Homo sapiens: one gene and its partners. The protein of the gene in region 7 purifies or fractionates together with the protein of the main gene of each other region. This does not show direct contact. Each region holds a gene or a part of one and is shown on either strand. Other genes may lie near its edges. The genes, in order: STK39, OPA3, SLC25A31, RMDN1, ZNF518B, MOCS1 and CHCHD4.

Evidence for each region.
Region 1: the proteins of CHCHD4 (region 7) and STK39 purify together in Homo sapiens (affinity purification with mass spectrometry; one large-scale study listed by BioGRID and IntAct). This does not show direct contact.
Region 2: the proteins of CHCHD4 (region 7) and OPA3 purify together in Homo sapiens (co-immunoprecipitation; one large-scale study listed by IntAct). This does not show direct contact.
Region 3: the proteins of CHCHD4 (region 7) and SLC25A31 purify together in Homo sapiens (affinity purification with mass spectrometry; one large-scale study listed by BioGRID and IntAct). This does not show direct contact.
Region 4: the proteins of CHCHD4 (region 7) and RMDN1 purify together in Homo sapiens (co-immunoprecipitation; one large-scale study listed by IntAct). This does not show direct contact.
Region 5: the proteins of CHCHD4 (region 7) and ZNF518B purify together in Homo sapiens (affinity purification with mass spectrometry; one large-scale study listed by BioGRID and IntAct). This does not show direct contact.
Region 6: the proteins of CHCHD4 (region 7) and MOCS1 purify together in Homo sapiens (co-immunoprecipitation; 2 studies listed by BioGRID and IntAct, with this or other methods). This does not show direct contact.

What each region holds. Positions count from the first base shown.
Region 1 is NC_000002.12:168,237,596-168,241,095, forward strand, and holds part of STK39 (STE20/SPS1-related proline-alanine-rich protein kinase), read right to left. Parts: intron 1-3,500. UniProt on the Homo sapiens protein: Effector serine/threonine-protein kinase component of the WNK-SPAK/OSR1 kinase cascade, which is involved in various processes, such as ion transport, response to hypertonic stress and blood pressure.
Region 2 is NC_000019.10:45,582,003-45,586,017, reverse strand, and holds the start of OPA3 (optic atrophy 3 protein), read left to right. Parts: upstream 1-1,215; 5' UTR 1,216-1,253; coding exon 1,254-1,395; intron 1,396-4,015. UniProt on the Homo sapiens protein: May play some role in mitochondrial processes.
Region 3 is NC_000004.12:127,729,013-127,733,199, forward strand, and holds the start of SLC25A31 (ADP/ATP translocase 4), read left to right. Parts: upstream 1-1,387; 5' UTR 1,388-1,533; coding exon 1,534-1,765; intron 1,766-4,187. UniProt on the Homo sapiens protein: ADP:ATP antiporter that mediates import of ADP into the mitochondrial matrix for ATP synthesis, and export of ATP out to fuel the cell.
Region 4 is NC_000008.11:86,498,687-86,502,186, reverse strand, and holds part of RMDN1 (regulator of microtubule dynamics protein 1), read left to right. Parts: intron 1-3,500.
Region 5 is NC_000004.12:10,443,927-10,447,426, forward strand, and holds part of ZNF518B (zinc finger protein 518B), read right to left. Parts: intron 2,614-3,500; 5' UTR 2,403-2,613; coding exon 1-2,402. UniProt on the Homo sapiens protein: Through its association with the EHMT1-EHMT2/G9A and PRC2/EED-EZH2 histone methyltransferase complexes may function in gene silencing, regulating repressive post-translational methylation of histone tails at promoters of target genes.
Region 6 is NC_000006.12:39,903,670-39,907,066, reverse strand, and holds the end of MOCS1 (molybdenum cofactor biosynthesis protein 1), read left to right. Parts: coding exon 1-710; 3' UTR 711-2,897; downstream 2,898-3,397. UniProt on the Homo sapiens protein: Isoform MOCS1A and isoform MOCS1B probably form a complex that catalyzes the conversion of 5'-GTP to cyclic pyranopterin monophosphate (cPMP).
Region 7 is NC_000003.12:14,114,871-14,118,370, reverse strand, and holds part of CHCHD4 (mitochondrial intermembrane space import and assembly protein 40), read left to right. Parts: intron 1-1,846; coding exon 1,847-1,945; intron 1,946-3,500.

The DNA of each region.
Region 1 (3,500 bases), on a different chromosome or scaffold from region 7:
CTTATTATTTTGAGATACGTCCCATCAATACCTAATTTATTGAGAGTTTTTAGCATGAAGGGTTGGAGCCTGGGATTCTAAGGACTTTGGGACCATAGGCAAGTTTCTTCAACTTTGGCCATTAGAGAGTTTTCAGTTACAAGACAAAGCAGCTGGGATGGATTTTTTTTCCTTTGGTCTCTTCTAAAATTAAATTTCCTAATTCTCTCTATATTCTTGTACCACTTCTCACTTAGGAACTCACTTATAAAAACCAGCCATGACCTGCCATTCCTTCCCCAGGAAACCCCGTCTGCTGCTCCTCTTCCTTTGCTTTCTTGAGTCACCCCATAATTAAACAAACAGAGATAGTGACATTGCCTGAGAGAAAGAAAGAGAACCAGATGATTCAAATTAAAATCTAAGCTACACAGGATAGGTCAATAGGCACCAACCTACCCAAAATGTAATCCTTTTTCAATCCCCAGACTAAACAGAGTAGGAAATAAAGCAGTTGGAATACCCTTAGTACAAACTCTGGTTCAAACTGATGCAACCAGTTCAAAACAAAATCATTACTTCTTCTAAGACCCCAACCATCCACAGAATGATTATGAGAAGTCTCACAACTGTCACAGGTCACTGGCTCCAAAATACTCCCTGAATGAAGATCTATCATTCACAGGGCAGAAAGTCATCCACCTCTACTTTCCATCTAGTTTTTTCTGACAAATAGCTCCAGTGGTAACTAAAAGTTAGAAACCTAAACCCATAAATGTCAATAAAATGTATATTTTTTACCTAAGGGAAGAATCACATGAGCACCCCCAATACTAGGCTTCTGAGAGTTATACTAAATGCCACTTACCTGGAAGAAGTTTGAAAATAAAGTCAGGGATAATATGAATGTAGAGGTCTCTACCATTTCTATCTTAAAATGTTTTCCCATATATCAAAATACACAATCAGTTTAAAAGGTCAATTAATCTCAATCCTCAATGTCCAAGAAGTTTCTTAAAGCTAAGCCAGAGTTTATTCTCAAATAACTGTTTGGCAAGTGAGAAGAAATGTGAAACATATCATTTACTCACATCGGATTCCAAAGTATTTATCTAAATCGACTCTAGAAATAAAGTATGCCAATCCATTCTCTAAAGGATTTTTCTCTTCTGCTTTTCAGTTAAGCCAAGTCTGAAATGACTTTTTAATTAATATATTGAATTCTTGTCTAGTATCAAAAACTTGGCCAATTGATGGCAGATAGGGAAAAAAGAAACACTTGAATCACTTCAACTAAGAGCTGTTTTGGTATAATCTAAACACAACTATCCTAGAGGAAAACGTATGACTTCACATGATTACATGGAGAATTTTATTTAAATAGGAAAAAAAAACTTTCCCAAAAAGTACACTGTAAAGGAATTATAACATCTATTAGAATGACCCGGTTCTATGGTCTTAGCAGGTACCACAGCCATCCTATCATGTCAGTCCCTTATAAGTTATAAAAATAGAACTCCTGCCATCCTAACAACCTTTGAAAGCCACTTGTTCTGCAATTCTGCTCCTGTGTTTCACCTGCATCCCTGATCGTCTCCAGCAGCCCTGATTCCTACACAGGAAGAGGCTCCACAGAACTTCAAGGTGAGTGTTATATATAAATACATGAACAGCAAGAGAGAGAGATCACTGATATACAAAAGAAAAGAAAGCTCTAGAGCTTTTGAAGGGCAGTGTGGGACTTCCCCACTCCACCCTACAATGTCTACGGATGCCAGAACTGTGGCAGGGAGCTCTGGGTCCTTTAATCCAGCCAGAAAGGCCACCTCTCAGTCCTAAGACCTCAGGAGAGCCAGGCCTCTGCCTGCCTACCTCCACAACACAGGCAGGTGGACGCACTCAAAGTGCTTACTCTTGATCTGTGAGGATTAATGAGCTAATTTCTACAGAGCCCTTTAAGCTGATTGGCCCAAACGCAACTAAATAAACCCCATCATTAACCACGGGCAAGATCAAATCCTCAGGATCCAGTGAGGCAAATTTTTAGACGTCAGGCAATGTTCCTCCTCCACAAGGTGAGGAAGGAGTATTTATCCCCAAAACTCAGAACTTCATCCAGAAAACATTTATTAAATATCTATTATGACATGCAGGGTAGGGAGATGAGAGACCCTGTCCTCAAGGAAGACTTAACAGTCTAGAGCCAGGCTGGCAAGGAAAATACAATTTGCAGATAGTGTGACAACTGCCAGGGAGCGAAAGACCCAACAGAGCCTGAAGGGCAAGGGGGGAGGGGGGCTCTAGAGGCAGAGATTGTTTGTGTGACAAGAAATCACTTGTTCAGGGTATGAGAAGAGAGGCCCAGTCAGGGTGCTGGTTACATGGTGTGTTCAATTCATGAACATGCACCAAGATATACATTTTTTATATGTACACTTTTCCACATGCATATTATACTTCAATAAGGGCAATATTTAAAAGAAAAGACAGAGCTCTTTGCTACATAGATGAAAAATGGAAGGGAAGGGTCTTGGAATGGTGTTCCAAGCAGAGGGAAATCTTGCCTAGAAGAGGCATTTCAGCAACTGCAAAAGGTTCCCACTGGCTGGAGAGTCTGTCCTGAGACTGGAAATTACAAGATGTGGCTGAAAAGGGAGGCAAGAGACAATTCCCAAAAGACCTTAAACACTGTGCTTCAAATTAAGTCTTGAGGGTGACGGGAGAGCTACTAAAGGCATTTCAGCCTGGGAGCAACGTGATCAAGAATTTTGGTATAGCAGTATCTTTCTGGTAGCAATGCACACTACAGCCAGAAACAAGAATGGAAAAAAGGAACCTGGTTAGGAAATTATTACAATAATCCAAATAAGAATCGATAAGGGCCTGAACTAAACCAGTGGTGGCTGACATGAAGAGTCAGAGTCAAATCAAAGAAGATCTCAAGGAGGTGGAGTATTTAGGACTTGGTGACCAAACAGATGTGAGAGATGGACAAAGACAGGAAAGTATAGGATGGCCAGCAGGTTTTGCCCTTGAGGGCTCTAAAGATGATGAATATAGAAGAAACAAGATTAGGACTGAGGCCAGGGTGGAGAGACAATGAGTTTAACTGTATGAAGTTCCTGTGAAACATTCAAACGAAGACATTAAAAAGGTAGTCCAAACACTGGTATACAGTCAGGAAGACCCTCAGCATTTGATGTGGTAATTGAAGCTTCAGACAGACAGAGATGTGGATCTGGGGCAGGCAAGGGAGTACAGGAAGTCCAGAAGGAAGGCATGGCATGGAAGCTCAAGCAAATGCCTTTCCAAAAGGAGAATGAAAGATGGCACCTAACCCTGCAGAGAGCAGAGAAAAGGACTGCAGTGTCCACTGGCTCTGGCCACAGAAGAGTCACAGTGATTTCAGAGAGTAACTTGGGTTTCTTAGGGAAAGGGCAGAAGCCAGACTGCAGTGGGCTGAGAGGGAATGGGAGGTTCCTTCCAACAATTTAGCAGTGAAAGGAAGAAACGAGATAACC
Region 2 (4,015 bases), on a different chromosome or scaffold from region 7:
ACAGGTGCCCGCCACCATGCCCGGCTAAATTTTTTTTTTTTTTTAGTGGAGATGGGATTTCACGATGTTAGCCAGGTTGGTCTCAAACTCCTGACCTCAGGTGATCCACCCTCCTCAGCCTCCCAAAGTGCTGGGATTACAGGCGTGAGCCATGGCGGCCAGTCCTCTGTTCCTGTTTTCTTCTGTCCCTCTGCCTCCGAGAATCTCTCAATTACCCATCAGCACTCCATCATCCAGGAATTTCTCTCAACCCCTTCCTGACATTGTTTATATGATTTTACTCCCTGCTGGGTAAGAAAGGACAGTCTGGGACATGTCCTTAAATTTATTTCTGAACTAGCTCCCTGGGGAACCTACCTCCTAATGAAGGAAGTTGGGTTGCTTGAGAACGGGTATGGTTTTATTGGCCAAGATGCCAGGCTATCAACCTCTGCAGGAACCTTGTGCCACCCCCTGCCCTGCTCTGGGCCTCAGTTTCCTTGTCAGTTACTTGGGAAAGGGTTGGATTCGCTGCTTCTGGGGGTGAAATGCACCCTCAGGCTGGATTTAGCATTAATAATGCAATCATGACCTGTATAGTAAGAAGGGCTATTTACTGAGCGCTTAACTATATGAATGGCACCATTCTAACCACTTCCCATGGTCCACTGTTTTACACTCAAGATTAGCATAGAAGCCTCACAACAACCCAAAGAGGCAACTGCTATTAGGATTCCCATTTGGTAGACGGTAATACTGAAGTCCAGAGAGGTTATGCCACTCATCTAATATTACACAGCGAGGAAATGGCAGAGCTGGGATCCCAGCCAAAGTCTGTATGACCGCGCGGCTTCCTCTTAATCCCAATGAGAGCCCTAGCTTGCAGAGGAAGGTGTATTTGGGGCTCATAGGACTAATTAGGACTAATTAAGAGCCTCCTTTGGGTGGGGACGCCAACTCGGAACGTGACATCACGAAGGAGTACAGTGACGTTGGCCAAGGCGGGCGTGGGAATCCACACGCCTTCCAGCATCCGTTTAACGGCACCGCCCCCTGACCCGCCTCACTTCCGTGTATATTTGCATATTCAGCGAACGGACGTCGCTACGCCAGCGTCGACGGGGTGACGTCAGGATGCGCCTCTGAAGTTTCCCTCGAGCGTACGTACATACGTACTGACGCACGCATGGCCACGAGAGGGCGGGGGAGGAGTGAAGAGGTTGAGGCGCCCCGCCCAGTCAGCAAGGTTGCGCGTGCCCTGTGAGACCGCCAAGATGGTGGTGGGCGCGTTCCCTATGGCGAAGCTGCTATACTTGGGCATCCGGCAGGTCAGCAAGCCGCTTGCCAACCGTATTAAGGAGGCCGCCCGCCGAAGCGAGTTCTTCAAGACCTATATCTGCCTCCCGCCGGCTCAACGTGAGTCTGACCCGAATTCCCTCCAACCTTTTTCCTTTCTCCAACCCCTGTCAGGTGGTTGCTTAGGGGATGGACTTCTGTCTACGACCAATCACAGCCCGAACCGGCAAAGTCCAGTGGCCAATAGTGGGGGGTTTCTGATAGAGGGGCGTACGGGTGGCCCAGTAGTGAGGGCGGGGCGGGGCGTAAGGGGCGGGTCAAGGAGCCACCACGCGAGTAGGAAATGCCAGCCGATAAAGGAAGAGAGCGCTTGGAGACTGATGCCCTGTTAAACCAATAGTGTGAGAGATGGGAGAAATTTGGACGGGGCTTTCCAGGATAGAGGAGCTAGGGGAGGGGCTGAGGAGAAACCGGACGGGGTCCTTTGCCCGGCTGTCCTTGGGCAACTTCATTTCAAAAGCGGCACCGTGTGCCTCAGTTTCCCCACTGATCTAGGAGGTGCTTGTATATCCTCCGTTTAGGACGTCGACGTGCCTCAGTTTTACTGTAGTCAATAAGTCTGGATTAGGGGCATGGTTCGGGGGTGAAGTCTGGGTTCTGGAGACATGGCCTGGGAATCCGGAAAAGGACTTTGAGCCAGAGAGGACATTCATCTGTGTACTCATTAATGCGCTCATACGCCGTCCTTTCATTCGGTTGACAGACTATGCGGCCTTTTTGCTCAGCACTGGGAGATATACTCCTGATCCATCACTGTCAACCCAGAGTGGTCGGGAAAGTGGGAGCCCCGGAGCTCAGAGGAACTGGCTGACCCAGGGACCTGAGGCCAGCAGGGCTGCCTAGAGGGGGCCGCCCGAGCTCAGATCTAAAGGGCATAGTAAGGTCCGGCGCGGTGGCTCACACCTGTAATACCAGCACTTTGGGAGGCCGAGGCGGGCGGATCACATGAGGCCAGGAGTTCGAGACCAGCCTGGCCAACATAGTGAAACCCGGTCTGTACTAAAAATACAAAAATTAGCTGGGTGTGGTGGCGCACACCTGTAATCCCAGCTACTTGGGAGGCTGAGGCAGGGGAATCGCTTGAACCTGGTAGGTGGAGGCTGCAGTGAGCCTAGATTGTGCCATTGCACTCCAGCCTGGGCGACACAGCAAGACTGTCTCAAAAAATAATAAATAGAAATAAAGGGCTTAGTAAACACCCAAAATATAAACTACTTTAAAAAGGTGATCTTGCCGGGCGCGGTGGCTCACGCCTGTAATCCCAGCACTTTGGGAGGCCGAGGTGGGCAGATCACGAGGTCAGAAGATGGAGACCATCCTGGCTAACACGGTGAAACCCCATCTCTACTAAAAATACAAAAAAATTAGCCGGGCGTGGTGGCTGGGCGCCTGTGGTCCCAGCTACTCAGGAGGCTGAGGCAGGAGAATGGCGTGAACCCGGAAGGCGGAGCTTGCAGTGAGCCGAGATCGTAACACTGTACTCCAGCCTGGGTGACGGAGCAAGACTCCGTCTCCAAAAAAAAAAAAGGTGATCTGTGTTGTGCTACGTGGGACATAAAATAAGGGAATTTAGCATCATTGGCTGGGTCAGAGAACCACTGAAACCGCCTTTGCAAAATTATGACTGACACAGCGAAAGAGATCTAAGTTAACTTACTCCATCTTGCTTCTAACCTCCAAGCTATCCTTGTTCATTCCTGGGCAAAGGCTGAACTAACTTTGGGAGAGATTTAGTTTGTAGTTTATAGTTTAAACAAACATGGTAACAGCCCTTTCCCAAAGCAGACCTCCTTCTTGTCTGGCGACTGGATTGCCTTTGTAGGACTAACATTAGCCACAAGATTAGAAATTATGGTTTAGGAGTCATGCAGCTGGAGGGTACAAGATTCTGACCCTCCCTAAACTGCTCCTAAGATCAGTGCTTGAGATATTTCACAGACCCTGCACTTGATGGATCAGCTGGCCTTACCCAGATCAATAAACTGGCCCATCTGATCTTGTGGCCCCCCAACCCAGGAACTGACTGAGCGCAAGAAGACAGCTCCGACTCCCTGTGATTTCATCTCTGACCAATCAGCACTCCTGGCTCACTGGCTTCCCCTCACCCATCAAGTTATCCTTAAAAACTCTGCTCCACCGAGATCGCACCACTACACTCCAGCCTGGGCGACAGACCGAGACTCCGTCTCAAAACAAAAACAAAAAACAAAAAAACTCTGCTCCAGCTGGGCCCATTGGCTCGCATCTGTAATCCTAGCACTTTGGAAGGCTGAGGGGGGTGGAGCACCTGAGGTCAGGAGTTTGCAACCAGCCTGGCCAGCATGGTCAAACCCCGTCTCTACTAAAAATACAAAAGTTAGGCGGGCTTGGTGGCGGGCGCCTATAATCCCAGCTACTCGGGAGGCTGGAGCATGAGAATCGCTTGAACCCGGGGATGGAGGTTGCAGTGAGCCAAGATCGCGTCACTTCATTCCAGCCCAGGCGAAAGAGTGAAAATCCATCTCAAAAAAAAAAAATAAAATAAAATAAAAATAAAATCTCCCTGAATGCTCAGGGAGACTGATTTGAGTAATGGTAAGACTCCTGGCTGGGGCGCGGTGGCTCACGTCTGTAATTCCAGCACTTTGGGAGGCCGAGGTGGGTGGATCATGAGGTCAGGAGTTCGAGACCAGCCTGACCA
Region 3 (4,187 bases), on a different chromosome or scaffold from region 7:
CAACAGACTGAATGCAAAAGCAGTAATGTGAATCTAGCTGTCTTTTATTAAATCAGACATTAGAGATTCAAAAATATAAAACAATACTATTTTTCTACTACATTTTTTATTTAAAAGTCGTACTTATGCTATCCTGTAATGGATTATTTTTATTTTAAATGAATTAAATATTTTTAAATCGTGTTTTAATTTCTGAGTGGTAAATGCCAATATACATAATAAAAACGGAAGCTTCATTGTGTCTTCAATAATTTTTTTTAAGAGACAGGGTCCTGCTCTGTTGCCCAGGCTGGAGCACAGTGGTGAGATAATAACTCACTGCAGCCTACAACTCCAGGGCTCAAGCATTTCTCCTGTCTTAGCCTCCTAAGTAGCTATACTTAGGACTACAGGCTTGTGCAGCCACGCCCAGCTATTTTTTTTTTTGTAAAGGAGGGGTCTCACTATGTTGCCCAGGCTGGACTTGGCCCAAAGTTTTGGGATTACTGGTACCTGGCCTTCAATAATTTTTCAGAGTGAAAAAGAGGGGTCCTGCAATCGAAAAGTTTGTGAACTACTCTTCTAGATAGGTCATTGGCCCTCAACCCTAGAATTAGAATTACTTCAAACACTAGAATTACCTGGAGAATTTAAATACTGATGCCAGGCCTCACTTCTAGACGTTCTGATTTAATGTGCAGGGCCTAATCCCAAGCATCAATTTGAAAAACAAAACAAAACACCCCTCATCCCCTTGAATGTGCAGTCTGGATTGAGAACCACTGCTCTGGATATTATCAATTTAAATACAATATGAAAAAGAGGAACATGTATTATGCTATGGGGGCACAATCATCAAAACGACACAGAAAGTGACTAGACAAAGGATCCCTGCTTAATTAAAGGAACAGATTAAAGCAATTTCCAAGGGAATTTGAAGCATTAACAGGCACATAGGGTGAAATTTAAGGGGAACATCACTTGAATCACACAACAGGTAAGACTGTCTTTTTTAAGATGCCAAGAAAGGTCAAAGGAACCATCTCTGGTCAAAAAAAACGTAACGGATTAAAGCGATTAAGAAAGTGAAGGGGGTAACACTAGGAACTAAAACTAAATTCTGTTAATCTCACACCGCTGGTTTACTGCTCTGGCCTAGTCTCAGCTACTAAATTTCTTCACACAGAACTGGCTCTCCTCGGCCCCTCCCCTCGCCTTTCCTGCTCAATGCTCACCGCCTCCGGACCCCTCCCTCATCAGAAAGCCCAGGCTCCGCTCGTAGAAGTGCGCAGGCGTCACCGCGCATCCAGGAGCCACGTGTCAGGAGTCACGTGTCAGGTGTCACGTGTCAGGCGTCACGTGGCTGGAGGCCGTTGGAGCGCCTGCGCAGCTTTTCCGCACGCGCCTCGCCGGCGCGCGGCTCTCTCAGCGTCCCAAGAGCCACTTTCTCGCCAGTACGATGCTGCAGCGGTTTTCCGGTTTTCCGCTTCCCTTCATCGTAGCTCCCGTACTCATTTTTAGCCACTGCTGCCGGTTTTTATATCCTTCTCCATCATGCATCGTGAGCCTGCGAAAAAGAAGGCAGAAAAGCGGCTGTTTGACGCCTCATCCTTCGGGAAGGACCTTCTGGCCGGCGGAGTCGCGGCAGCTGTGTCCAAGACAGCGGTGGCGCCCATCGAGCGGGTGAAGCTGCTGCTGCAGGTGCAGGCGTCGTCGAAGCAGATCAGCCCCGAGGCGCGGTACAAAGGCATGGTGGACTGCCTGGTGCGGATTCCTCGCGAGCAGGGTGCGTCAAGGCAGGCCGCCCCGACAGCCTCTCCCGGCGCCCTCGTCAGCTTCCCAGAGAAGAGGGTGGCTGGGAGGGGCATGATTGTGGGCCCCACAACCACAGCTACAGCTGTCGGTGATGAATTTGCTTCTTACCCTTCCAGAATTTAGTTTCTGAACCTAACAGGCTCTGCTTTTCCAGGGCCGCGTTGGTCCTGACCAAGTCCTGGTACCGGGGAGACCACTGCCTTCTCTTTCTCTAAATCTGCAGTGCGATTTACACCTTGGTGCACCTGTGCCAGGTCCAGAAGGAGAGTGGTTGACCTCCCAGGATTGAGGGAGATGCCATTAGGCACTCTGCTATAACTAGTGCTCTAAGTTGCTTAAATATTTGTTGGTATAATCACCCCACTATGCTCCAGCATGGGCGACAGAGGAGACCTTGAGTCAAAATCTATATGTATATTTGTTGAAATAGTATGTCTAAGAGAAGTACAAATATGGGAGCACTAGGGCTTACCAGTACTCTGAAACCTATTAGTGAAAAGAGGTTCTGCTTATTCTACTGAAGACCAAGGGGGTACTTCGTTCTGCCCAAAATTCAAGGGGGCCCTAAAAAAAAAAAACCCAACCCTCAGTCATCAAGATAAAAAGTATTTTAAGGCCAGGCGCGGTGGCTCACGCCTATAATCCTAGCACTTTGGAAGGCCGAGGCGGGCGGATCACTTGAGCTCGAGCTCAGGAGTTCTAGACAAGCCTGACTAACATGGCGAAACCCAGTCTATGCTAAATATACAAAAATTAGCCGGGCGTGGTGGCGCACGCCTGCAGTCCCAGCTACTTGCGGGACCCTGATGCGGGGATTTCAGGGAGCCCAGATCGCGCCACCGCACTCCAGCCTGGATGAAGGAGTGAGACCCTGTCTCAAAAAAACAAACAAAACTTTAGGGTCCTTCCGTTTCCGAAGCCCCTCTCTTTCAACTAGAGAGAGAGCTGTTCTCCTTTCTCTTTATTTTTTCTATTAAACCTCCACTCCTAAAAACAGGAAAAAAAAAAAACTTTAAACTATTTTAATGCAATCTTTTAAAAATCAAGTCATGCAAAAGAATTCATAACAAACACAATATATACAAGTTTAAAATAAAGATGGGATCAGTATTACCAGTTTTTCTTTTTGCATCAAGCACTGTCCTTATTTAAAATTTCATTTTTGTTCATCATTGATTTTTTCTATTAATATTGGAATGATTTAAAGAAATAACGAAAGTGCTTTGTGAACCATTGCTGCAAAATGGCTCCCAAGTTAGCTAAAGGGATAAGTCTATCAGATATTTTATATAATCCACCCATATAGTTGGATTCAATAGAAAAATCTGTATGATCTTTTAAAAAGAAATAGACATTTATTGTGTATTCTCAAGAAATGAAGTGGCTTCAACTCCAGTGCAGACCTTTCTTTTAGTCCTGTTCTAGGGCCAGATACTGTCCCATTTAAAAAAGCACCTTGTACCCTAGGAATGCTAGGGATGTGGTTACAACTCTTCCAGACCTGTGGCGTGGAGTATATGGGGTCAGGGGTAGAAACTTAATGCATCATCTGGGAGCTAAGCTCAGGTCTTTCATAGTTTGCCTCTCTCCACTCATTCATTTAATTAAAGCAAGCTTCTCATTTCCCCCAAGATTTTTTCAGGAAAAGCAAGGAACCTGTCTCTTCTTCGTTTATATTCTAAGACTTCTGAAGAGAAGTAGGGGCCTCTCTATTATTAGCTTTTCTGCTTCAAATATTTTGTCAGGTAAAATGAAGTATTCTGGTCAGATAGGGCTGACTAGTGCTAATTTATTTCATATTTTAAATGTTTTTCACAATATTTAAACCTAAACGTATTCAATATGGCCCTTGTAAGTTGATATCATTCTCAGATGTATCCTGGTCCTTGCTTTAAGTTCCAAGATGAGAGGATCATAAGTAGAACTTGAAGATGTTTTCTATTATATATAAAGCTTTATGAAGGTACCATGGTGTATCCTATGCTAAGAGATCAGTAATTTACAAGGATACTATTGCCATCTAGAGGCAATTTCGGAAACTTGTGGGGCAATTTTTTTTTATTTAGCACAAAGATAGAGGGGTATAATCCTACTTTACAATGGTATGAAAGGCAAGGGCCAGGAATGTTAAACGTCCTGCTGCTATATGCAGGCCAGTCATACATGATGAAGATTTATCCCGCAACCTGAATGACTTTTAGATCTCCCCTTCGATTTTCGTGTAGCAGTGAAACCTGTTTATGTTTCTCTAAGCCTAGAAATAACTTAACTCTGATTTACTTATAAACACATTGTCTGGGGCATGATTTTAGTATACACTGATTCCAGTAATGCAGCTACCATATAAGGAAGTAGAAAAAAGATCGTACTTTCTTCTGTTCAGAAGTTTACTA
Region 4 (3,500 bases), on a different chromosome or scaffold from region 7:
AGAGCAATATCATATGAAGAAATTAATGAGTGAAGCTTTTTTGTTTTTTACAATCCTCACTTTTTAATTATAAAGGAGAGGGTGATTGGGGAAAGAAGCAGAGATTTGATTTTGAATAGATGGTCTTATTCAACTTCTGATAGAAGAATTTGAGAACATGATCTAAAGATTGCTAGTTATCTATTGATTTCATTTATCTGTGATTATCTTTCCGTTAAAAAAGCAGATAATTGAGAAGCCCTGCACTGTTCTTTTTTTTTTTTTTTAAATGTATTTATGAAGAAGGACAAAGCAGAGAACTTGGTTTTGTTACTGGCTGAATGATTTATTTTGGCAAATACTTAAAATAATTCATCTTTTTAAAGCAACCTAGACTTTAATTCTCACAGCAGCCTTATAAAATAGTTAGGACAAGTCTTATTATCTTATCACATTATAATAATTTTTGAAAAGAAGTTCACAGAGTTAAACTTGAAAGTCAAAATGTTAGAGTGGAGATTAGAACTTATTTTTTTTTTGAGACAGGGTCTCACTCTGATGCTTAGGCCACAGTGGCATGATCACAACTCGCTGTAGCCTCTACCTCCCCGGGCCCGGGTGATTCTCCCACCTCAGCCTCACAAGTAGCTGAGACTACAGATGCACACCACCATGCCTGCCTAATTTTTGTATTTTTTGTAGAGACGAGGTTTCACCATGTTGTCTGGGCTGGTCTTGAACTCCTAGGCTCAAGCAATCCACCTGCCTCAGCCTCCCAAAGTGCTGAGATTACAGGCATTAGCCACGACACCCAGCTCCTTATCTCTATTTCTTCTTTGAATCTATCACATTTAGTTTCAGTGTATTTTGGTAGCATTATAGAAATGATTGTAAAGATGTAGTGCTTTCTGAAGTAACAAAATTCAGTACTTTGAAAGGGAAAACCAGAATTACTTTTGGCTTTATCATAGTCCATTTTTTTCTTGTTTATTTTTTTTCCAACTTTTATTTTAGATTCAGAGGGTACACGTGCAGGTTTGTCACGTGGGTAAATTATGTGTTGCTGGAATTCGGTGTACAAGTGATTTTGTCACCCAGGTAGTGAGCATTGTACCCAGTAGGTAGCTTTTTGACACTCGCCTACCTCCTGCCCTCCCCATTCTAGTAGGCCCCAGCGTCTATTGTTCTTGTCTTTGTGTCCATGTGTACTCAGTGTTTAGTGCCCAGTTAACAAGTGAAAACATGCAGTATTTGGTTTTCTGTTCCCATATTAATTTGCTTGGGATAATGGCCTGCAGCTGCATCCATGTTGCAGCAATGGATGTGATTTGGGTTTTTTTAAAAATGGCTTTATAGTATTCCATGGTGTGTATGTATCACATTTTCTTTATCCAGTTCACCATTGATGGGCATCTCAGTTGATTGCATGTGTTTGCTAATGTGAACAGTGCAGTGATGAACTTAAGGACGTGTGTGTCACTTTGGTAGAACAATTTGTTTTTCTTTGGGTATATTCTCAGTAGTGGGATTGGTGGATCAAGTAGTGGTTCTATTTTAAGTTTTTTTAAAGAAATCTCCAAACTGCTTTCTACGGTGGCTGAACTAATTTATATTCCCACCAGCAGTGTATAAGTATTCCCTTTTCTCCACAACCTCACCAGCATCTTTTTTTTTTTTAATTATTTTTTTTTGAAATTTTAAGAATAGCCATTCTAAGTGGTATGAGATGGTATCTCATTCTGGTTTTGATTTGCATTTCTGTGGTGATAGTGATGTGAAACATTTTTTCATGTTTATTGGCTGCTGCTTGTATGTCTTTTTTTGAGAAGTGTTCATGTCTTTTGCCCATTTTTTAGTGGGATTGTTTTTTGCTTGTTCAATTGTTTTAAGTTCCCTATAGATTCTGGATATTAGACCTTTGTCAGATGCATAGTTTGCAAATGTTTTCTTTCATTCAGTAGGTTGTCTGTTTAAGAAACCTGTCGATAGTTTCTTTTGCTATATAGAAGCTCTTTAGTTAGGTCCCATTTACCTATTTTTGTTTTTGTTAGAATTACTTTTGGAGACTTTGCCATGAAATCTTTGCCAGGGCCTATGTCCAGAATGGTGTTTCCTAGGTTTTCTTCTAGGTTTTTATAGTTGTAGGTCTTATATTTAAGTCTTTAATCCATTTTGAGTTGATTTTGTATATGGTGAAAGGGGTCTAGTTTCTATCTTCTGCATATGGCTAGGCAGTTATCCCAGCACCATTTATTGAATAGGGATTCTTTTCTCCATTGCTTGTTATGGTCAGCTTTTTTGAAGGTCAGATAGTTGTAGATGTGCAGCTTTATTTCTGAGTTCTCTAACCTGTTCCATGGCCTATGTGTCAGTTTTTGTACCAGTATAATGCCGTTTGGGTTACTGTCTCGTAGTATAGTTTGAAGTCAGGTAGTGTGATGCCTACAGCTTTGTTATTTTTGCTTAGGATCGCCTTGGCTATTTGGGCTCTTTTTTGGTTCCATACAAATTTTAGAGTAGTTTTTTGTAACTCTGTGAAAGATGATATTGGTAGTTTGACAGGAATAACAAATAAGAATCTGTAAATTGCTTTGGGCAGTAAGACCATTTTATCAATATTGATTCTTCCTGTCCATGAGCATGGAATGTTTTTCCATTTGTTTCTGTCATCTCTGATTTCCTTTTCATTGTGGTAAAACATCTAACTGTATTCCTAAGTATTTTATTATTTTTGTGGCTCTTATGAATGGGGTTGCGTTTTTTATTTGGCTCTCAGCTTGGGTGTTATTGGTGTATAGAAATGTACTGATTTTCATACATTGATTTTGTAACCTGCAAGTTTACTGAAGCTGTTTATTAGTTCCAGGAGCCTTTGAGCAGACTGTTTATGGGGTTTTCTAGGTAAAGAATCATATCATCTGTAAGGAGAGATGGTTTGAGTTCCTTTCTTTCTATTTGGATGCCTTTCCTTTCTTTCTCTTGACTGATTGCTTTGGCTAGGACTTCCAGTACTATATTTAAAAGGAGTGGTAAGAGTGGGCATCCTTGTCTTGTTCCATTTTTCAAGGAGAATGCTTCCAGCTTTTGCACATTCAGTTGTTGGCTGTGGGTTTGTCATAGATAGCTCTTATTATTTTGAGGTGCGTTCCTTCAGTGCTTAGTTTGTTGATGTTTTTTAAGGTAAAGCGATGTTGAATTTTATCAAAAGCCTTTTCTGTGTCTTTTGAGATGATCATGTGGTTTTTGTTTTGTTTTTAGTTCTGTTTCTGTGATGAATCCCATTTATTGATCTGCATGTTGAACCAACCTTGCATCTCAAGAATAAAGCCTACTTTTGTGGTGTATTATCTTTTCAATGTGCTGCTGGATTCAGTTTGCAAATACTTTTTTGAGGATTTTTATGTTTATATTCTTTTTTCTTTTTCTTAAGACAGGGTCTCACTCTGTCACCCATGCTGGAGTGCAGTAGTGCAATCTTGGCTCACTGCAACCTCCGCCTCCCAGGCTCAAGTGATCCTCCC
Region 5 (3,500 bases), on a different chromosome or scaffold from region 7:
GGTATGCTGACAGGTGCTTCACATGTAGCCTCTATGATGTGGGCATTCTCAGAGGAATTAAGAACCCTCAACACAGCCCCTTTGGGGATTAACACTGGCGTGGCAACATGAGCCTTCCTGGCCACTCTGCTTTTGGTTTTCCTATTACTGCCATCTGCAAAGTGTGGATATATTTGTTGATGAGTAAGCTGTCTATTACCAGTAATACCACCATCATTCGGAGGTTTCTGAAGAGTACCTGTGGAATGGCCAAGACCAGTGAGTGACACGTTGATTTCTTGAATACCTTCAGAGGTAGCTTTTGAAGTTCCCTTTGATGCCTGCCCTACAGAGCGACGATGTGCACTATTTGAAGCCAAAGATGACGGCTTCCCACAGGACTCAATTAACTGAGCTATCTTTCTGCGCAACAGTTCAATTGACTTTATTTTAGACGTTGAGCTATTCCACTTAATGCCCTCGGGGACATTTTCAGATCCAGAGCTCAGAGAAAATACTGATGAGATGACTGGGCCATCATTAGTGTTGTTAGTCCTTTCAGAATTCTTTAATTCCAAAGGCTTATCCCCAGGCTGTTGAGATCTATCTTCTCCAGTTATGTTTATATGTAAATACTCACTCTTATGTTGAGAGGAAATCTGGCCTACAGTTGAAACTGCCTTGTGTTCCTCTGTCTGGTTATCTTCCTGCTTCCTATTAGAGGAAACCACTTTTACAGGAATATTGACTTTACTTGTAGATTCCAAGTCATTTTCACTTACAGGCAATAAGCCCTTTTCTCCAGAGAAGGAACAGGTTGCAGGTGATGCAGCAAATGGGAGTAACTGCTGTGAGCTACTGTGTAAATTTCTTCCACTTTCAGCAAAACAAACAGCAGCTTTATATGGAAAAGGGTTTGATGCAGCTCCAAGACTACGTAAAACACTGTTTTTAAATACAGATGCTAGAGAATGACCTTTTAAGGCAACGGAAGGAAAAGCAGTTCTATGTGGATACAAATTATTTTTTTTCTGAAAATCCTCAATTGTTTCCGAATTAATGAAGGATTTTCCATTGTTGTGCACACTAGAATTTGGCATAATAAAATCATAAGACCTTACCCATTTCACATTTTTAAGCTGTTTCTGAACTGAAGGTTGAAAACTATCAATGCCTACGAGTTTTCCAACATTCCCGTCAACTGTCAGTGACTTTGTTTTTTCTGCAGAAAGTACTTTTTCTTGTTCATTTGAACCCTTCTCTTTCACCATACGTTCAGAATTACCTCCATTATCCCTCCCAGCTTCAAGGCAATTATTTTCTTCCAGCGGAAACAGTTTCAGAACAAGCTGCTGTGTACCATTGACAACCTTCACATCTATCAACTGGGCTAAACAGTTTGCAGGGACAACTAGTTCTGCTGGTGCAACAACTGTCAATGGCATACCTGGCTGAACAGGTTCTTTTGCAGGGGATAACACTTCTACTTCAACATTTTTGTTCTCAAATAGGTTGACTTCATTTGGCTCAGACAGGGTCATTTTATTTGGAATACAAACTACATCTTTTTGGTATTCCTTTGGTTCAGGTAACAACATGATATTGTGCATTTTGTCTTTATTTGCATGGAGAGAGAAACCTGACAGTTGGTCTGACCACTTATTTTGAAATGTAGTCCGTGGATTGGAAGCTTTTAGAAGCTCTGGGTTTTGTTTTGAAGTTCCGGTTCTTTTTGGCTCCAGCTTGGCAACAGCTTTGACTGGCCGTTTCGCACCTGCCCTTTCATGTACTCTCTTCGTGTGTTTGACAATATAATCATTTCTAATAGCACCATAGTCACAATACTCACACTGATAAGGAAATATGCCTGTGTGTTTCACCAAATGCCTCTGAAACTCTCCTTTCGTATACGAAATGTAGCTGCAGTGAGAACAAATGAATTTAATCTCCTCGTGTTGAAGGGTGTGCTTTTTGTACTGCAGCGGGTCCTTTGTAGAGAATCGACATTTATCACAATAGTATTTGCCTGGCTTAAAGTTCCTTACCTTAAATTTGCTATTGACAGAACTTGAGAAGTTTTCAGTTTTATTTCCAACATGAGTCGCACTGGAATTATTGCTCACAAAATGAAAATTGGGAGGAGCTGCACCGAGGCTGCACTGGAAGCAGACATACATACCGTCCTTCCCTGTACCCTTCTGCAAATCTTGAAGAGAGATCTTGTGAACACTTTTGCACTTTGCACATGTAGCAATGGTCATCATGGCAGCCTCTGCCTCTGAGCCTTGATACAAAAGGGTTTGTGCTTCTTGTCTATTTGGCCGAGGTGCTCCATTAGCATCAGGCTGTTTGGGTGACATGGTCAAGGAATTATGTCCGCCGTTCAAGTGTGTAGTGTATAGCTGCTGTCCAATATCCTTCATCTTATCTGCATTTCTAAAAAGAGCCAACTAAAATTCAGAAAGTTTTCACATGATAAAATCCTTAGGAGATATCCTTCTATACAGTTTGTGATGGGTAGGGGCGCAGCTACTTCTTGGGTGCATACTTAATTATCTTTCTTTATATACTGCCGCAGTAGGTGCATGATCCCAAAATATGACTGCTTTCAGCTCTCTGACATTCCAGGTAACACTAAAGGAAAACAAAATTATAAAGCATGATTAATATAAGAGTTTGGCTAAGCTATTAACAAACTTATCCTATATTTTAATGGCCTTGGACATTTTATGGTAAATCTCAACGTATGATTTTAGACGCATGTTATAACAATAACACAACAGAGTTGGCAAGTAAGCCTAAATTGAAAACATTTTCAAACTCAGCCCCCTATAAATGACCACTTTAGCCAAATCATGAATGAACACAGATATACCAGGAACAAGGACATCATAGCAGCCATTCAGGACAGCCTTTGGTCAGGGAAAGTCATTTTCAAGTGTCAGTGAGCACATCTTTCATAGGTATAATTTCATATTACCTTCACAAAAATGTTATACAGGACACTGTCAGTTCAATTTTTGAACAAGTTAGTTATCAAGTGGTAGAGCTAGGGCTTTGGCCTGGGGTGTTCACATTTGTTTCTACATTATAGCTTATTATCAGCTTGAATACCAACTCTCTCACTTACATGCTTAATTTGCCTTCATGAGTGCTAAGAAGCCCATAATACTGACAATGTTAGCAAGCCTGCTGCAGCATCTTATTGGGAATCTACTATGTGCTGGGCATTATTCAAAAGTGCTGTAAGGTAGTGAATGAAAGCAAATCAGTCCCTCTCCTGGTGATGCACACACTGCACAGGGGGAAACAGATTACATATTTGCCAATGGTGGTAAGATACTTGGGAAAAAAGCAAGGCCAACAGGACAGGGAAGACCACGGTGATGAGGTTGCGGGGCTGGGTGTGGAGGTGAGGAGAGTCAGGAGAGGCCTCATGCTAAGTTCATGTCTGAGCAGAGACCTGGGGGCAACCACAGTGAGCATTGTGGCTGCTGGAAAAGGGGTGTTTCAAGCACAGA
Region 6 (3,397 bases), on a different chromosome or scaffold from region 7:
CCTGGGACCCGCTCCATGTTCAGGGTCTAAGACCCAGAATGAGTTTCTCCAGCCAGGTGGCCACTTTATGGAAAGGATGCAGGGTCCCCCAGACCCCTCCTCTAGCCCAGCAGCGGCTGGGGTCTGGCTCCTTTCAGAGACACTACACTTCCCGTGCAGACTCAGATGCCAACTCAAAGTGCCTTAGCCCAGGTTCCTGGGCTTCTGCTGCCCCCTCAGGACCCCAGCTAACCTCAGAACAACTAACTCATGTGGACTCGGAAGGACGGGCAGCTATGGTAGATGTGGGCAGGAAGCCAGACACAGAGCGGGTGGCTGTGGCTTCAGCCGTGGTCCTCCTGGGACCGGTAGCCTTCAAGCTTGTCCAGCAGAACCAGCTCAAGAAAGGAGATGCCCTAGTGGTGGCCCAGCTGGCTGGAGTCCAGGCAGCCAAGGTGACCAGCCAGCTGATCCCTCTGTGCCACCACGTGGCCCTGAGCCACATCCAGGTGCAGCTGGAGCTGGACAGCACACGCCATGCCGTGAAGATCCAGGCATCTTGCCGGGCTCGGGGCCCCACCGGGGTGGAGATGGAGGCCCTGACCTCTGCTGCAGTGGCCGCCCTCACCCTGTATGACATGTGCAAGGCTGTCAGCAGGGACATCGTGTTGGAGGAGATCAAGCTCATTAGCAAGACTGGTGGTCAGCGGGGGGACTTCCATCGGGCTTAGCACCTGCCCTTCTCACCCATGGCCCACCCAGGCCTGGAGCTGGGATGCAATGTAGGCTGAGGGAAAGACGTCAGGTTCCTTTAATCACAGTCACTGTTTGTTTACCTTGAGCAGTAAACCCGAAGTCAGCCTGCTCTACTACTAACAAACAGGCCTGCTGCTAGATGATCTCTAATGACCAATGGGGCTTCCTTTCTATAGGGAGGATACCAGCAGGCCCTTAAGCCTTCCAGGACACTAAGGTCGTGGGAGCGGGACTGCAACAAGCAATGCCAGATAACTGAGAAATCATGTTCTTTGTGGACTATTTCAGACAACCAGGTTCCGACAGTCCAGCCCAGAACTTTTCCTTCTCATTTTGGGTTTTCTCTTCTCCTGCTTTCCTGGGGAGAGATTAAGCGCTCATTAAGCAGAGGAGCCCACTTTGAGGAGAGCAAAGCACAAGCTTGCCTGAAGAATGGATCCCAACTTCTCCCCGGCAGCTCTGCCTCCCTAAGTCTGTGAAGCCGCAGCCCTGCCCTGTCCTGTCCTGTCCTGACTTCATCTCTCCTTCTGCCCAAGTCTGTGTCCCATCAGACTTGCAGCCTTTCAGCTTAACAGTTGCCCGGTCCTGCTGGCCCCTTTTCCTCTGGCCCCCCTCTTCTGAAACAGGATGTGCACACATGGGCCATAGCCCTAAGGACTCCTGCCAGACCACACAGCCCACACCTGGCCCTGTTCACGGCTGTTCCACCCACCCCTCTTTATTCTGGAGCATATCAGGGAAAGAAAAGTTGATGATAGATTGCCTTCACCCTCACAGCGCACAAATAAAGCTACGATGCCAACTTTGCAGATGCAAGAATGAAGACACTGTGTGGGTAGGGCACTGAGCTGCTGCAGTTTCACAGGGAAGGCTGCACCTATCAATCAATCAATCAATCCTATCCCAAGACACAGTTCCCTGAGGGAAGAAGAGGAGGGACCTGGAAAGGCCTAAGGGTGTACTCTCTGTATAGCCCCGCTATGGGAAAATAAAGTGGAGTAGGGGGCATAGAAATGCACCATCTAAGGGAAATCTTTTGTCAGGTGGTGGCCAGGGGTGTTCAAAGCTCATTGCTTGCATTACCAGCTATTAGAGAGATCAGAGAGGGCAATTAATTAGAGGCTCCTGGTTCTCACATCCCAAACACACACAGTTCTGGCCTGCTGGGCTCTCTAACTTGGATGTCTTTGAGTCCTCAGTGGTGCCCCCTGCCTGCCTCCCCTCTGCCCTATGCCAAGGTGTGCTGGCAAATATTAAACAACCAGCTCTCTGGAAAAGACAATTTGTGATATAAATACTCCCATGTTGAATAATTTCAAGCTACCAGTATGTCAAATGGCTTGCAAAATTTCTGAAAATGTAAACAATTGGTTCTCACAGAGCTGGTACAAGCTGGCTCCAGCACACTCTCAGCCCACCCCAGATCCCCTCATAGGAAGAAGGCACAAGTTTAAAGGCAGACTGGGTAGGGATGGTATGAATTTAATATTTTTTAGTATTACAATATATTCTTATAAAAAAGGTGCAAGTGAAAAAGGACACTGTAGATTATGTCCATTAGCCTCATTTGTCATCTGAGGCAGCTGGTGAGAACAGCCTTGGCGTGAAGGCATCCCTGGTAGAAGTCGGGGGAGATAGATAGTCACAGTTCCCCAGTTGGTGGAAATGGGATGGGAGTAGGGAGAGGCTGGAACAGACCCTTCCCCATTCACCTGGAGAATTTTCTCCTCCCACTGCCCTAAACACTTTATTTCCATCACAGGGGAGAAATGCTGCTGAGAAGGTTGTGTTTGTTAGGTTGATGACGAATTTTACATTGGCCACAAAATTAGCTAGAGAAACTTATCTAAAGGTGGCAGGAGCAGTGGGGAGGGCATGAAGAAAGCAAGACCAAGAAACAACCTATTAAGGACCAGCTCAGCCACCCCGACTGGGCACCAGCCCCTTCTTACTCAGTTGAGTATGAGTCCATGGTCCAAGGCACTGTTGGAGATCTGGCTACAGTGGCATCTAGCACCAGAGCCACTGGCCAGATGTAGAAAATAAATAGAAAAATATCTTTCTTTTAGAGTGAGAAGGCTGAGCTCTGGAACAACGTATTTGTGTCCTCTGTCAACAGTTGAACCAAATTCTGCTTTTCTGAAGATCAAATGTATCTTGAACAGCTTCCATAGTCCTTTTGTTTCCAGGTGCGTATCCAGTCTTCCATGGTGGGTGGGAATGCCAGACACGCTTGTGGAGCCCTCCCCTGTTCCCTGCCCCTGAGGGGGTTAGGTTGACATCAGCCTGGTCAGTTTGGGAGAGGACCTTTAGAGGCCTCACCCACAACCTCCCATCTTCCCCAACACTTGTCTTGCAGTGGGAGCTCTTGGGGCTGCAGATGCATATAGCCAAACTCTCTGCAGCTGTTCTGCCTGGAAGCCTTCATCTTGCCCTCACCTGGGTTCCAGGATGGCCTCTTCACACCTGTGTCAGCCAGGCTTGCACTTGCTCAGATCCCTCCCACCAGAACACACACACACCGCCCGCCCCCTCAAACCAACGCACATGCTGGGCTCACCGACCCTGTGTTTCTTCCCCCCCGCAGCTACTACGGTCCCAGCCCCAGGAGTTGGATGCAAGTGAAAGGCAGAAGATAGGCAGCTGAGAGTAGGCCCAGCTC
Region 7 (3,500 bases):
CCCTCAGCATAGCTGTGACTGAACTTTTCTAAATATAAACAAAAAGTATAAAGTGATCAGAGATGCCCGCAGCTTTCACAGGGCCACGTTTCTGCAGGTCCGGCCTCTGCGCCCACAGTGGCCACTCACTCAGAGCCATGCACTGTGGCTCTCTGCCAGGCACTTTTGGCCATACCTGAAGAAGTCTTCTTAAATGCTTGGCACCTCCTATCCCCTTCCAGATGAGGGTCCCAGTACCCCAGATCTTCTAGGATCAGAATGCATGGTCAGTTGGTCTGTAGAATTTGTCATTCACCTTCACCAGGAAAGTACAAGAAAGATCTTGTTTGTTTACTTGGCAAACATTTCACTTGGTTCTAAGCTTTTTGGGGCCGAGGTTGGGTCAGAATTTATTGTATTTATTCATTGCCCAAGGTGCACAAGCTCTCAGGCAGTGCCCAGTCATGCTAAGTGCTCAGTGTCAGCTGTCGATTATTCTTGTGCAAATGTTGGTGCGGGGCAGTATGGGTGTGTAGAAAGGATCTCCAACAGTGTAGACTTCAGAGCATCCTGTCCTGTGTGGCCCAGCAAGTTACTACTCACAGCCTCAGGCTCACCACCATTAAAAGGGGATGCTGCTACCTCCCTCTCAGGGTGGCGATAGGATGGAGGAATGAGCTCACACGGAGGACCAAAAGATGGACTGGCTCTGTCTGTTCTCTGGGGACAGCTGGAGAAACTGATGACCCACCGTGCAGTGTGGGGTACTGAGGACAAGGTGCTCCTTGCCCACAATGGGAATATCTGACACATACCTGTGGTGTGGTTAGCTGATGGCCAAAGTTTTTAGGGAGGTGAGGTAAAGTGTTGACAGCTACAAGGTGTAGCAGAGAGGGCTGTAAGGACCTCCCTTCTGCTTAACTCAGCCTTGGTTTTCTGTTGTACTCCATGGGGGCTGAGGGTGATAATACTTCATAGGGGGTCACTCTAAGGCAGTGAATGCACCCACCCTGGTTTGGCCAGGACTGATGTGCTTTTCTGTGCTCACCCAGCCTCCAGTGAGGAGAAGCTCCTAATATAAAATGCATTTGACTCTCACTGGTCTGTTTTCCTGGAGCCCTCAGACCTTCCGGCAGCCAGGCCCCAGGGTGAGGGCTCTGGTTGTGAACAAGGTGCTCTGCACTTTAGGCCTGCTGGCTTTCCCATGCTGGTCCTCACAGGACCACAGTCCTGACCCTAACCACTGTTGGGTTTGTCCTAAAAAAATAAACTGCAGATGGTCACAGTTAAAAAGATCTGAGAAGTGCTCCTCCCACTGCCCCCCTCCAGTTATTATACTTGTTGGGAAATGGTCCCCCGGCCTCTTGGACTGTGGGGAGTGGAACGGCTGCAGTGTTCCTCACCTTATGACCCTTCCTTCTTCCGGCCACGATTAGGAGCCCAGAGGCCTAGTGGGGGTGCTGGCTGTGGTCCCTCTCAGACCACCTGTGTCCTCAGCCTTTCAGAGGCAGGGGCCTGTGGCCGCATCAGCTATGTGGGCTGCAGTGATCTGTAGGCTGAGGACCCACATCACTGCACACTCACTTTGCCAATGTGCTCAGTCTTCCTTCAACTTTTATGCATTCTGAACCCTGTGGGTCAACCCCAGGACACTCTTTTTCTTCAGTGCTTCTTTTCCTGCCCTGCCCCTTATCCATCCGCTTTTGTTTGCTACCCCTAGCATATGAGAGCAGTTTGATAGTCACCTCACATAGGGATGGCATATGGGAGAGTCTTCAAACTTGGTTTGTGTGGCGGCTGCTTTGGGTTTAAAGCTGATTCACTGCTCTTGAATGAAATATTTCTTCCTCTGTTCTCCAAACACTAGGGAAGGATCGAATCATATTTGTAACCAAAGAAGATCATGAAACTCCAAGCAGTGCAGAATTGGTGGCTGATGACCCCAACGATCCATACGAGGAGCATGGTGAGTGACATGTGGCCTCCCAGGGACCCACACCAGGGCACTGGGGAGAAGCTCAGTGTTCTTAATTCCTTTCCCATGTTTTCCTAGCCAAGGCCAAGTTTTCAGGTATCTATTCTCAGCCATAGACCATCTCTGAGGGCAGTGGTTTATCTTCCTCAGAGGTTTGAGGGACTGTGCTTTCCAGCCTTGTTCTGATGTACTTCCCTGGCACAACAGCTAAGTTTTGGGAGAGGGTATTAGTAGATTCCAGCAGTTATAGGTAGGTTAAGGTGACAGGGCTTTTGCTCAGACAAGTTGCCAGACTGAATTCTGCCACATCTACCAACTTTATTAGCAAGTAGACAGTCATTCACCTTGTTCTGTAAGGTTGGTGAAGTCCCTGCTGTCTCTAACTGCTCCAGCAAGCACCTTACATGAAAAGGTCACTTGCCACAGACAGCTTTCTAGCAGCAGGAGTCAGCTAACCTAGTCAGAGCTGTTGCTCACTCCTTGGTTAATGGCTGAATATAACAGTGGTCGCTTAGGCCTAGGACATTGTTCCAAAGGATTTGGGCTGCTAAACTCACTAGATACTTACTACTGCAGACCGTGTGAGGTGGATGTGTGTGTGCAGTGTCCATGAACAATCTACGTATTGTACAGTAGTCACTTCACCAATCAAAAACCACTTCTGATGTCCATGATGACAACTAATCTTCTAGTGCTAACTGGTAATTGAAGAGCTTGAAGCAGCCGCCTCGAGAATATGGGCTCCTGATTGGAATTTCTCAAATGCTAACTGATGTGTGTATATTCCTTGTAGGACCCTTCACTTGTTGCCCTGACTGCTCCTAGGGGTTAAAGCATAAAATACATATCCAGCACCCAGTGGGAGCAGTGGGAAATGCAGACGTTATACAAAGTGTTAGCATTCTGAGAAAGACAGCTGCAAGGGTAATCTTGATCAGGGCTTACATGTCAATTCTAGTACCTTGCTTATCTTTAGATCCATATTAAGCACATTTCATTAATTGATCAAGACTGTGGAGGCCTGCAGGACAAATCGGGCCTTGTTTTGTTTGCCTCACAGTGTTATTAAAAGCAGTACGTATCTGCCTTTAGACTGGTCTGCCCCCTCCAGATCCCACCATTCTTTCCTGTCCCTGTTGTTTTTTTTTACCTGCTTCTGTCACTTGCAATGTATCTGCTTGGATAGTAGGTATACCATATGATGCATTTGGCTTTACAGCCCCTTATAGTGAATACTTTGTAAAAAGAAGCCTATAAAACGCAAAGAACTCTGGGACCCAAGTTTCAAGCTCTTAAACTGCAAAATTAGTAAGTGGACCAAGTAAGCCACCATTTTATGCCATCTACCTGCCTTCCAGCATCCAGCTCTGCAGCTGAGATGGTGCTTGGAATAGCTAAGAGTACCAAGAAAAAAGGTGGCAGAATTAATTTTCCTAGAATCAAAACATCAAGAGGGCCTTAAAGATCATCTGATCCAATGAGAAAACTGGGGGCCTGGGCGGGGGCGGAGACTGACTCAGCCAGAGACTGGAACTTCAGGCCTTAG